Regions from separate parts of the Homo sapiens genome. Here region 1 is linked to region 2. A link means that fine-mapping ties the variant in region 2 to the plasma level of a protein whose gene starts in the linked region. Region 2 holds a variant in brackets. A gene starts in the other region. All regions are shown on their reverse strands.

The links. PIP is the posterior inclusion probability: the model's chance that the variant is causal. The UK Biobank Pharma Proteomics Project read protein levels with antibody pairs (Olink). The fine-mapping took linkage between variants from a reference panel, not from the people measured, so its PIPs are less certain.
Region 1: TG starts here. The variant in region 2 is fine-mapped to the plasma level of the TG protein (UK Biobank, PIP above 0.99).

Annotation. Positions count from the first base shown.
Region 1 is chr8:132,863,911-132,868,910 of GRCh38, reverse strand. It overlaps TG (thyroglobulin), which reads right to left and starts at 1,953. Exons shown (of 48, transcript NM_003235.5): 1 at 1,844-1,953; 2 at 688-796. The coding sequence starts at 1,910.
Region 2 is chr2:217,369,188-217,374,714 of GRCh38, reverse strand. The region is part of intron 8 of DIRC3 (disrupted in renal carcinoma 3); the gene reads left to right. Among named protein-coding and RNA genes, the nearest start is that of DIRC3-AS1, 89 kb to the right of the region's middle. RefSeq lists an enhancer at 3,520-4,719. The variant A/G (reference allele first, on the strand shown) is at 2,652.

The sequences.
Region 1 (5,000 bases), not on the chromosome of region 2:
TTCCCCTGATTCAACATGACTGGAATAGCACAAGGAAATTTCAATGCATGCACATTGCAAAGGATTCCTGTCTATTCTGCAGGGAAGAATTGTCTAGATTATTACCACACTCTCCACAGAGAGGGTCTCAGGCCCCAAGTCTGCATTAGGGCAGCTGGAGAAACCCCTTTCAGAGAGCAGCTCAATGTGGAGACAGCGACCCAGAAGCCCAGAGGCAGCCTAGAGAGCTAGTCCGGGCAGGGTCGGTGGCAGCTAAGGACTAGGAAGTCAAGGCAGCCTCTGCTTCCACCACCCCAGCTTCTCAAGAGGATACTTGGAGGAGGGAGAGGTCCCAAAGCACAGATCATTTGACACTCTCCTCAACCTGCCCCACTCCCCACACGTGCCGTTTATTCAAGCCATCACAGAAAAAGTGATGGCAAGAAGAGAAGGGAGGGCAGTGGGAGGATGAAGCATGGATTGGGGTTCACTTGGTCAGATTGTCCAGTGTTGAACAGCTTGGGGAACTGAAAGGCAGGCACCTCCAAATGACAGTGGAACTGAAAGGCAGGCACCTCCAAATGACAGTGGCCAAGCCTCACATGCACAAAGGAGTTGCAGGGCAGAGCTCAGGAAGAGGGGGGAAGGCACAAGATGCTTTTTATGGCATCTTGGACCTTGAGAGTTCGCTGCTGACATAAGCCTTACTGGAAGCTGCCATCCTCTGCACACTGGGGCACGTAGTCTGCTTGCTTCAGAAAGGCCGTTTCCCTCTGCAGCTCACAGGGACGAAGGGGCTGGGCATCCACCTGGTACTCTAGGAAAAGAAAAGTGGTTCATCAAAGAAGAGTGTGGACTGGGCTGCCAGGACAGAGACGGGCTCTCATAAGCACAGATGCTTTTCCAGGGTCATCATCATTACCTATGACAGCCTATTTTAAAATTTGGCAGCTAAGCACACTTTCTTACAAGTATGACATTAGCTCATTTAATGTGCAACATTCTCCTAAGAGGTGACAGGCAATATATCCTTGTCACTCATGAGGCACCAAGTCTCAGGCAGCGAAAGTCGTCTGCCCAAAGTCACGTAACTGGCAAGTGAAGGATCCCAAAATCAACGCTGGGACTACACGTTCCCCGCCCGCCCCCACCCTGCCGCAATTCCCATGAGGCTATTTGGAGTAAGTTAGAGAACCGTAAGGAAGTTCTTCTTGAATCTATCAAGCCATGCCCTGCAGATGTAACATGTTCCAGATAAACATTGAAATACCAATTAATTAATAATGTACATGACTTATTTTTCCATTGAGAACTCTTGTAACACATAGGGTCCTACCCAGAAATCACAACCGCATCATGAGGTGTGTGTTATTTGTTTACTTTTTAAATGAAAAAAAAAAAAAAAAAACAGAAGCTTGGCACTTTGCCCGAAGTCATATGGGTAAGTGGCTGAGCCAAAGACAGAACTTAGGGCTATTTCACTTCATAGGTAGATTTCTTTTTCTACTGCTTCTAAAATACCTGTTATGGATGACACAGACTTTGGAATAGCTAAGGGGATAAAAACCCAAGGTCAATGCCAAAAGTTTGCCAAAATGGTGGGGTGAGGAGGACCTAGAATTGAATTAGGAAGATCAACCACATTTCCCATTTCTGCTCCATCAATCACTAGCTCTGTGACCTCAAGTAATTCAGTTCGGCTCTCTAAATCTGCCTCTTCATCTGAAAAAAAAAAAGCAAATCACTGACATGTGGGAATTTGTGAAGATTAAATTAGATCGCACCTGTTCGAAGGCCCAGGGCAGAGCCTGGCTGACACTGGAGCTCCCTCCCCACCGCCTGGCTCCATGGCCTCAGAACTTACCGAAGATATTGGCCGACACCCAGCAGATGGAGGCCAGCAGGGTGAAGATCTCCAGGACCAGGGCCATTTTCCTGGCCCTTCCTGGGAGGAAGGAGGAGAAACCACTGCTTGCCCTAGGTCCCCTGGCCAGGGAGCTTTTATAGAGCTGCCGTTGGCACTTTCCTTCCCACCCCCAGGTCCTCAGTGAGGCAGTGCCCCATCCTGTTTTCTCTGCTGGTCAAAAGGAGCTCCCTCCACCTGTGTCTACTCCTCCTGAGGGCACTCGTGTGGCCAGTGGAGCATGAGGATCTTGTCTAAACTGTGGGGGAACAGAACGGGGTGGGGTGACTTCAAAATCCTTTTTTATGGGTAAAGACCAAAGCTCTGTATCTTTGGAGGGAACAGGCTCAAGCCCACAGTGAGGGAAAAGCAATCCTTTGTTCTTTCCTTCCCCACCCTACCCTTTCTCCTTCTCCTTCCTCCTTCCTTCTTTCCTTTCTTCCTTTCTTTCTTCTTTCCTTCCTTTCTCCCTTCTATCCTTCTTTCCTTTCATTCTTCCTTCTTTCTTTCCTTCCTTCCCTCTTTCTTTTCTTTCTTCCTTCTTTCCTTCCTTCCTTCTTTTCTTTCTTCTATTCTTTCTCTAACAACCTCTTAGAGCTCCACAGTAGCAGGCACCTAATCTAGACAATGAGGATATGGCAGAGAACAAAACAGGCAAAATCGTGCCCTCATTAATATAGACTGTGAAAACTTTGGTGAGGGAAGCAAAATACACACACACTCATATTCATATTTCTATTACTTTCCTCTCTTTCCTAGGACCTCAGACTTTGTCAACCAAAAGATAGCAGGAACTGTGTATTCCACAGAAAGCCTGTATGTCCATTTGGTTTCTCCTGGCAAACATGGCTTCCTTCCTTCAGTCCTGTTCCTGTGAGACCTGGAAAAACTCACCTCATCTCCCTGAGCCCCAGCCTCCTTCTCTGGAAAGCAAAGTTAAAAGGAGAATAATAATATGTCCCTATTTGTTAAGGTAGTTGTAAGAGAATAGACATTGAAGAGCACATGCTTATTAGACACTAGCAGTTATTATTATTATTATTGATTTTCTTATTTTGCAAAAGCATCATGCCAGGGAATGGCAAGTATTCAGAAGACCAATCCAGCCAGGTAAGGAGCTAGTGACAGATAGGGTCAGGAACTGGCAGGTAATGAGGGCAGGTTGCTGAGCCTGGCACCTGAGGAGAGATGGAGGGACCTGTGAGAATCTGGAGGATATGGTCCCGGGTAGAGTGAAGGGCAGGAGGACAAGCTGGAAAGTGGAAGAGACTCCAAACCCTGGGGAAAATAAAGGGGCCGATATAGCTGCCGTGCCGTAGACTGTACTACCTTCCACAAATAGGGTTGCTATGAATATTAAATGTGTTAAAATATGCAAAGTGCTTAAAACAGTATTTGACACATAATAAGTATCCAGTGTTAGCTACTGTACTAGTCTGCTATGGGTGTCATCACAAACTATCACAGACTGGGTGGCTTAAGTAACAGAAATTTATTTTCTCATAGTTCTGAAGGCTGGAAATCCAAGATCAAAGTGTCAGCACTGTTGGTTTCTTTGGAGACTCCTCTCCTGGGCTTGCAGATGGCCATCTCCTCCCTGTATCCTCACTTGGTCTTCCCTGTGTGTGTTTGTGTCTTAATATTTATTTCTTTTAAGTACACCAGTCATATTGGATTAGAGCCCATCCTTGTGACCTCATTGTGCACTTAATTACCTCTTTAAAGACCCTACCTTCAAATGCGGTCACATTCTGAGGTCCTGGTTTTAGGACTTCAGCATATGGATTTGGGGGGAGAACACAATTCAGTCCATAACAGCTACTGTCATCATTGTTGGGTTCCTGATATAAACTAGAGAAAGTAAAACACAACAGTCATTTGAAGTGTCAGGGTATGGGATTAAAAACAGGGGAGAACCCGTGCTCTGCCCGTCCTTCTTGGGGACCACACATGCCTGGAACTCCCACATCTCTCTCTAGCTCAGTCTCCAGCCAGACTTTTTTGAGCTCAGATCCACTCTGCCTGGACACCCTACAGGTATTTCAAATTCAACATATCCCAACCTGAACTCCTCAACCTTTCTCCTGACATCACCCCATTGGCTGTCTCTGTGATAGTAAATCCGAGCCCCATCCTAGGCTTCTCCCCTCAAGTCTTACCAGCCTCCAGGTCCTACCAGGCTGCTGCTCATTTCTACTTCCTTGGTCCTCCCCTCCTCTGCATCCTCACTCTTCCTGCCTCCGTCACATCCCTACAGCTCAGAACGAGCCAGCCAGAACAGCCTGCTGTACTGCTCCTCACCAGGGCTTCCCCACCAGCTGCAGGAACAGTCCTCTAAAATATGGCCATCCATGTCACTTTGTAGATTCTACAAAAAGAGTGTTTGGATCCTGGTGAATCAAAACACTGTTTCCATTCTGTGATATTAAACAGCACATCACAAGGCTGTTTTCACGGGTGGGGATGGAGACTCAGCCAACAGATGCTCAGGAGGTGCCGTGGCAGGAAGATCAATTCACCCTGGGGAGTGGGAGGACAACTTGGATTAAGACCTAGATGTTAGGTAAAGGTGAGCTGGGGAGTGTATTGGCATTTACTGGAAAAGGCAATACAAGAGGAAGAACTCACCTGCCTGACTCCCTGCTACCTCATTACATAGGCCAAGTTCACCCCAGGCTATGGAGAGCTGGCAGCATCCTTCTCTCTACAGCAATATAATAAGCACAGCATTGTGCAGCCCCTGGTCATTTCTCCATTTCTACATGTTCTAAAGCAGAAAAGTCTTAGAAAAAATTGAATGTGGTTAAAGATTTACCATAAACCTCACTCACCACTCTTCCCATTGCCCTAAAATGCATGCATAAAGCTTGCACAGGTTGGCCTGTGTGCTGAATCATTCTTGCTGGCCTGGCCCCTGAGAAGCAACCCACAGACCCATGCCAGAAGTGTCTCTGCTTCACTGGGTTTGGTGCTTTAGGAACTCTGGGCTCAGGGTTCATGAAGCAGGCCAAGATATCACTGGAATGAGGAGTACTATGAGAGAGGAATGGCAGGTCTGTGAGCTGACTCCACGTCAGACCCCACCTGGAGAAGCAGCAAGGTGTTAGGAGCCTGTGGG
Region 2 (5,527 bases):
TGGACCCAAACTAATAAAAACAATGGATAGACTAGAGTGATCTCCAAAACTTAACAAAGGCTTTTGAAACCTAAATTCACATTCTGGGGCATGTGGGGGAGGGGAGACTAATAAATGTAATATACTGAGAGAACTGAATTCAAACAAATATATCATGATTTTATTTGCCAGAAATTAAATAAACATTACTCGAATTTATGAGTTTGCTAATTATTGCCTGTGTCTTCAGTATTAAAACTAAGATCAAGACCTTCCTCTGTATATAACAAGAAACTATATCCAGCTATTTATCTACATAACAATATCTGTATCTGTGTCTATATCTCTATCTATGTATATCTGTATCTATATCTAGCTATCTGCCTACCTGTGTAGATCTAGATATATTATAATGGCTCAGCATTTGCATTCTGTGGTCAATGCACAGCCTACATGCATGCACTTTGCTGTAGTTCACAGTCAGACTCAATTTCTGACTTCTAAACACTAAAATTTCTTTATGGTGCAGAACATTGTACCACAGTACTCCAAAACATCGCCCCCATAAAAAAATCTACCCAATACGAAAAACTAAAATAAAAGCAAAGAACAGGCTGCAGCTATGCATTTGAATTAGTTTGATGGAGCCCATCCTTGTATGTTATTGTGAACATTGTATTTGATTTGGGGTGATTTACAAAGGAGGTTCATATGCCTGGGCCCTTTGAAAACCCTAAACTCTATTTAAACAGTGGATTTATAAATGTGTATCCTTCACTCATCAAGCATTTTTGAGCTTCTGCTGTGTGCCAGGATGGTATCAAGACTCTGAGGATATAGAGTCAAAGGAGTATAGTCTTTGCCTCAAAGAATTCACAATGTCATCAGGACTTGGCCGATAACAGTTGGAGGTGATAGGTGTCAGGATAGCAGGTGGTAGACACAGAGTACAGGGGAACCTCTAGGAAGTGGACTTGACTTCCCAGATGCTGTCTGGTGAAGGTATTTTTCCTGGAGGGGGTGATGGTGCTTTGGCAGATTCACAGGCGTTAGCCAGGTAGAAGGAATGTGGTGCTCGGTCTGAATGTGTTCAGGGAGCTGTGTGTGCAAGGCACAATCACCCTAGAAGGGCTTGTGCCACTGTAATTCTGTGCCTGGAGCCTCCAGGGCAAGGCTGTGGGAAGAAGCCAGACTGATGAGATAGTGAGTGAGAAACAAGATCCCAAAGGGTTAAAAAATCTCCAGGTAATTTGCAAACCAAAGGTTACCATGTTCATGTTTGTGTTTTGTAAAGATGTTTCTTCTTTAGCTCCGGCCTATGATTATCTCCTTGAGAATGGATCTACTTTCTATCAGTTGACATACACAGTTCACAAAGAAAAGACTTACTAAATTAGATTATGTAGAATATGAAGCACCAATTAAAAGCAGAACACAGAACAAACAGAAGTGTTGAGTGCAATGTATGCCAATTTTTAAAAATATAGCCAGTGTTGTCACCACTAGATACCTATTGGTTCAGTAGGGTTGGTAAACTTTTAAGGACTGGCAGGTTTTTAAAACCTTTAGCAATGTAATGCTAAGAGATGCTGTCTTTGAGGACTTTCAGATGAATCCTGGAGTGGAAGGTTCCTTTGGCTCTGCCTCTTGGAGGAATTGTCAGGTAGGAAAAGAGGAAGAAACTTGTTCTGGAACAATTTCAAAAGGGGCCATGTGTCCAGACTGGGGACAGAGAACCTTATCTGATTCAGGCTGTACCCTTGACATGAGGCAAAGAGCAGGTCTCTGGAGTCAGACAGCCATCGGCGGGGAATCTCAGCTCTTTTGCTTGCTGGCTAAGAACATTTCTCTGTGCCTCTGTCTCAGATACTCACCACAGCCTACCACTTGGGGCTATTGTGAGAATTAAATATAAGTTAATGTGTATCCAACAATTAGACTCATGCCTGCACCTACTAGATTCTTCTTAAATATTGGCTATTATCATACTGTGTGATTTCCATTATAAACTTAATGAGGCACCTGGCACATAATTAGATGCAGTAAACATTCATTTCCTTTCTCATTCAATACTGAGAAAATAGACATGGAGTGACGGGTATGATGGAAAGAATGTAGTTCAGGAGTCAGGGGCTTGGTGTAGATGGTCTATTGATGATCCGCCCAGCTCTGAATCTTTGTCCCTCCAAGCAGAGCCAGGGATCTGCCTATGGTGTGTGACTCTGGTTATTACTGTGCTGAGCCCCCTGCCCTGCGCATGGAGATGCACAAGCAAACCCCACATCTTGGAAAACTGCATCCTCTTCGAGGCCAGGAAACTGCTCTGTGCCACCCTGTTTCCCAGGGGCCCCAAATAGTCTTCCTCCATTCAAATGCATTTGCATGTCCTCCAAGTCTGACTGAGGCTAGAGGGGATTTCTTGTAATCCGTGGCACATTTCTTTTGATTTGAAACTCTCTCTCTCTTCATCTTTACCAGGGTCCCAAGAGGTGAAAAGTCCACTTTAGTAGGTGCCAGGTTCAGGAATTCTCACAATCCTCTTAGGCTCTGAAGAGCCCTGAGATTTCTCTGTTAGTACAATGGCCTGATTGTGCCGCCCCGTCGCAGTCCATTGACAGGTCGTCAGGCCAGCTAAAAGCTCATCTTAAACAACTACCTCCAAGCTTAAATCC[A/G]AACACCACAGCTGCACTTCTGGAACCAGGTTTGTTTTCCCAGAATATCAGTTACAGCATTTTAAAAATGAGCAACCTCATTATCAACAGTGTTTCTGAGAAGCAAGCATTCTTGTAGAAAATGCCAGCTCTGCAGGGCTGGCAGGAGCTACACGGCACACACATTCTCTTGCCCGCCACCCCCAGCCTCAGGCATCACTCAGCCAAACCCACGAGTGCAGTTTAGCAAAAATGAACACCAGAACTTCATTCCTATAAAGGAGCGAGGTTCCTGGGTGCCGGAAGAAGGGAGTGAGATTTCCTTCCTCAGAGGTCCTGGAGAACAGGAGAGAAGCTTGTTCCCGTAAAGAGTCAGCCTCACTTTACCAGAGGGAATCTTGGATTTGAACCTGGGTTTTATTTCCCAGCTTTGGCATCTACTAGTCGTGTAATCTTCAACAAATACTGAAATTTTCCCAGCCTCAATTTTTTTTGTCTGCTAAATAGCGGTAATTATTTCAAAGATCAAATGAAATTATACACAGGAAAAAGACTTGCAAATTAGAAGGCCTTTAACATTTAAAAAGAAGTATCTTATTCCTCTTAATATGATCTGTTCTTCTTTTATACATACATGTGTATGTGTCTGAACTAATCAGGCTGCTGTAACAGGAGACCATTGACTGGTTGGCTTAAGCAACAGACATGTATTTCTCACAGTTCTGTAAGATGGAAGTCTGGGATCAAGGTACCAGGCTGTTCGGGTTCTGGTGAAGGCCCTCTTCCTGGCTATGTCCTGGCATAGCTGAGAGCAGACAGAAAAGAAGCAAGCTCTCTCCTGTCTCTTAGAAGGACACTAATCCCATCAGGAGCACTCCACTCTCATGACCTAATTACCTCTCAAAGGCCCTGTCTCCAAATACCATCACATTGGGGGTCAGGGTGATCATAGAGCAGCATGTAGCTTACCTCTCTTCAGTTAAACCGCAAACCCTTAAGAGTTTTGGAGGACAACAGTTAATTCAAAATAAGTTCAAAACACTGCTCTTGACACAATGCGAGGCACAGAGCAGACATGAAATAAAAGTATGGAGGAATTATTAAATATTATTCATTATCTATTTAAGAATGCAGGAAATTATGTAACATATTGTTTTTTTAAAAAATCCAAGTATACTTATATCTACACACAGATATAGACGTATCGTGTGTATGTGCGTATGTTTCTTTACCTGCAAAGTGTAAATATCTCTTTCCAGAAGACTCAGCTCTCAATGATTTGTTTGTGTTTGAGGCAGCTTGGTGGCTTATGGAGAGCATGGAATCTGCACTGAGAGATACTTCCATTCAAAAGACCTGCTTCTTACTCGTGCTGACTTGAGGCACATTACCTAACCTCTCTGAGCTTTGAATACATCCGTAAATTGAGTCAATGCCTCCCTCACCAGGTTGTGGTGAGGATGGAATGAGATAGCACATGCAAGGCATTTGTCATCATGCCTGGCCCTCATTACTCACTCAATACAAAGCTGTCATCCTACCAACATGACAAATGGGGGAAGAGGAGGGAAGAGAGTGACAGACATGTGGTTTGGATGGCTCATGCAACAGGCGTCCGGGGGTGACGGGTAATGCACTTTGAAGGTCCCTATAATAATATAACCCAGCTCCATGCAGAAGTAAGCCCAAAGGAACAGAGGGTCAAATTAGAGTTTTGAGGCTGAGTATATGTCTCCATTCTAATGAAAAACCTACGGTCAACCAAGGTTGATCTTTTAGAAGACACTTTAAGAGCCTGTCCAGCACTTTGGGAGGCCAAGGCGGGTGGATCACGAGGTCAGGAGATCGAGACCATCCTGTCTAACACGGTGAAACCCCATCTCTACTAAAAATACACAAAATTAGCTGGGTATGGTGGCCCACGCCTGTGGTCCCAGCTACTCAGGAGGCTGAGGCAGGAGAATTGCTTGAACCCAGGAGGCGGAGGTTGCGGTGAGCCGAGATTGCGCCACTGCACTCCAGCCTAGGTGACAGAGCAAGACTCCCTCTCAAAGAAAAAAAAAAAAAGAGTCTGTCCAAGGAGAGGTTCTGACTTACAGTCTCTGGGCAAGTCAGGAAGTGGGAAGTGGGAAATGGGAAACACATCATAAACATCTCTTTCTCCATTCTTTTCTTAGGTGATAACACCGTCTATGTGCTGATGACTGCCAATGTATGCCAAATTTATATATCCACCCTGAAAATGTCTCCAAAACTTTAGGCTTATAAATGCAGCTGCCTCATCTATATTTCTTGTATATCTATTATATATATACACACACACAGCTCAACTTAAAAGTGCAAAAGTCAGTTTTTGGTCTTTCTCCATCTCCTCCTTTATAACTTTCTCTTAATATTCCTTGGATTTCAAGACTGATTCCATGCATTATTGCACCACCTTTTTTTCCCCTAAGTAAGCAATAATAGCACAATGTACTAGGCTCCAGGGACTGTTCTAAGTAACGGGAAGATAGAATAAAATAAGAGACTATCACTGCCCTCAAAGGGCTCACTAAGTAGTAGGGGAATCAGCACATTGTCCTGAAAGTCTCAATGTTGTAATGCTGTAGAACAGAACAGGGAGATAGATGTTTCCATGGAATGATACTGAAGAGATGACATTTTTAGCTGCTTCTTGAAGGATGATAAGGAGGTTACTATTCGATGGGTATTGTACCATTACTGTCCCCACTCAGTTAACCTCCATGTATTTAAGAGAATTATACACACACATCCCATAGATCGGCTTTTGCTATATGACTTGCATTTGCCAATGGAAAGTGAGCAAAAGTTACGTGGGCTACATCTGAGCAGAAACTTTCAAAAACATCATCAGGTTACACAGCTCATTTCCTTCT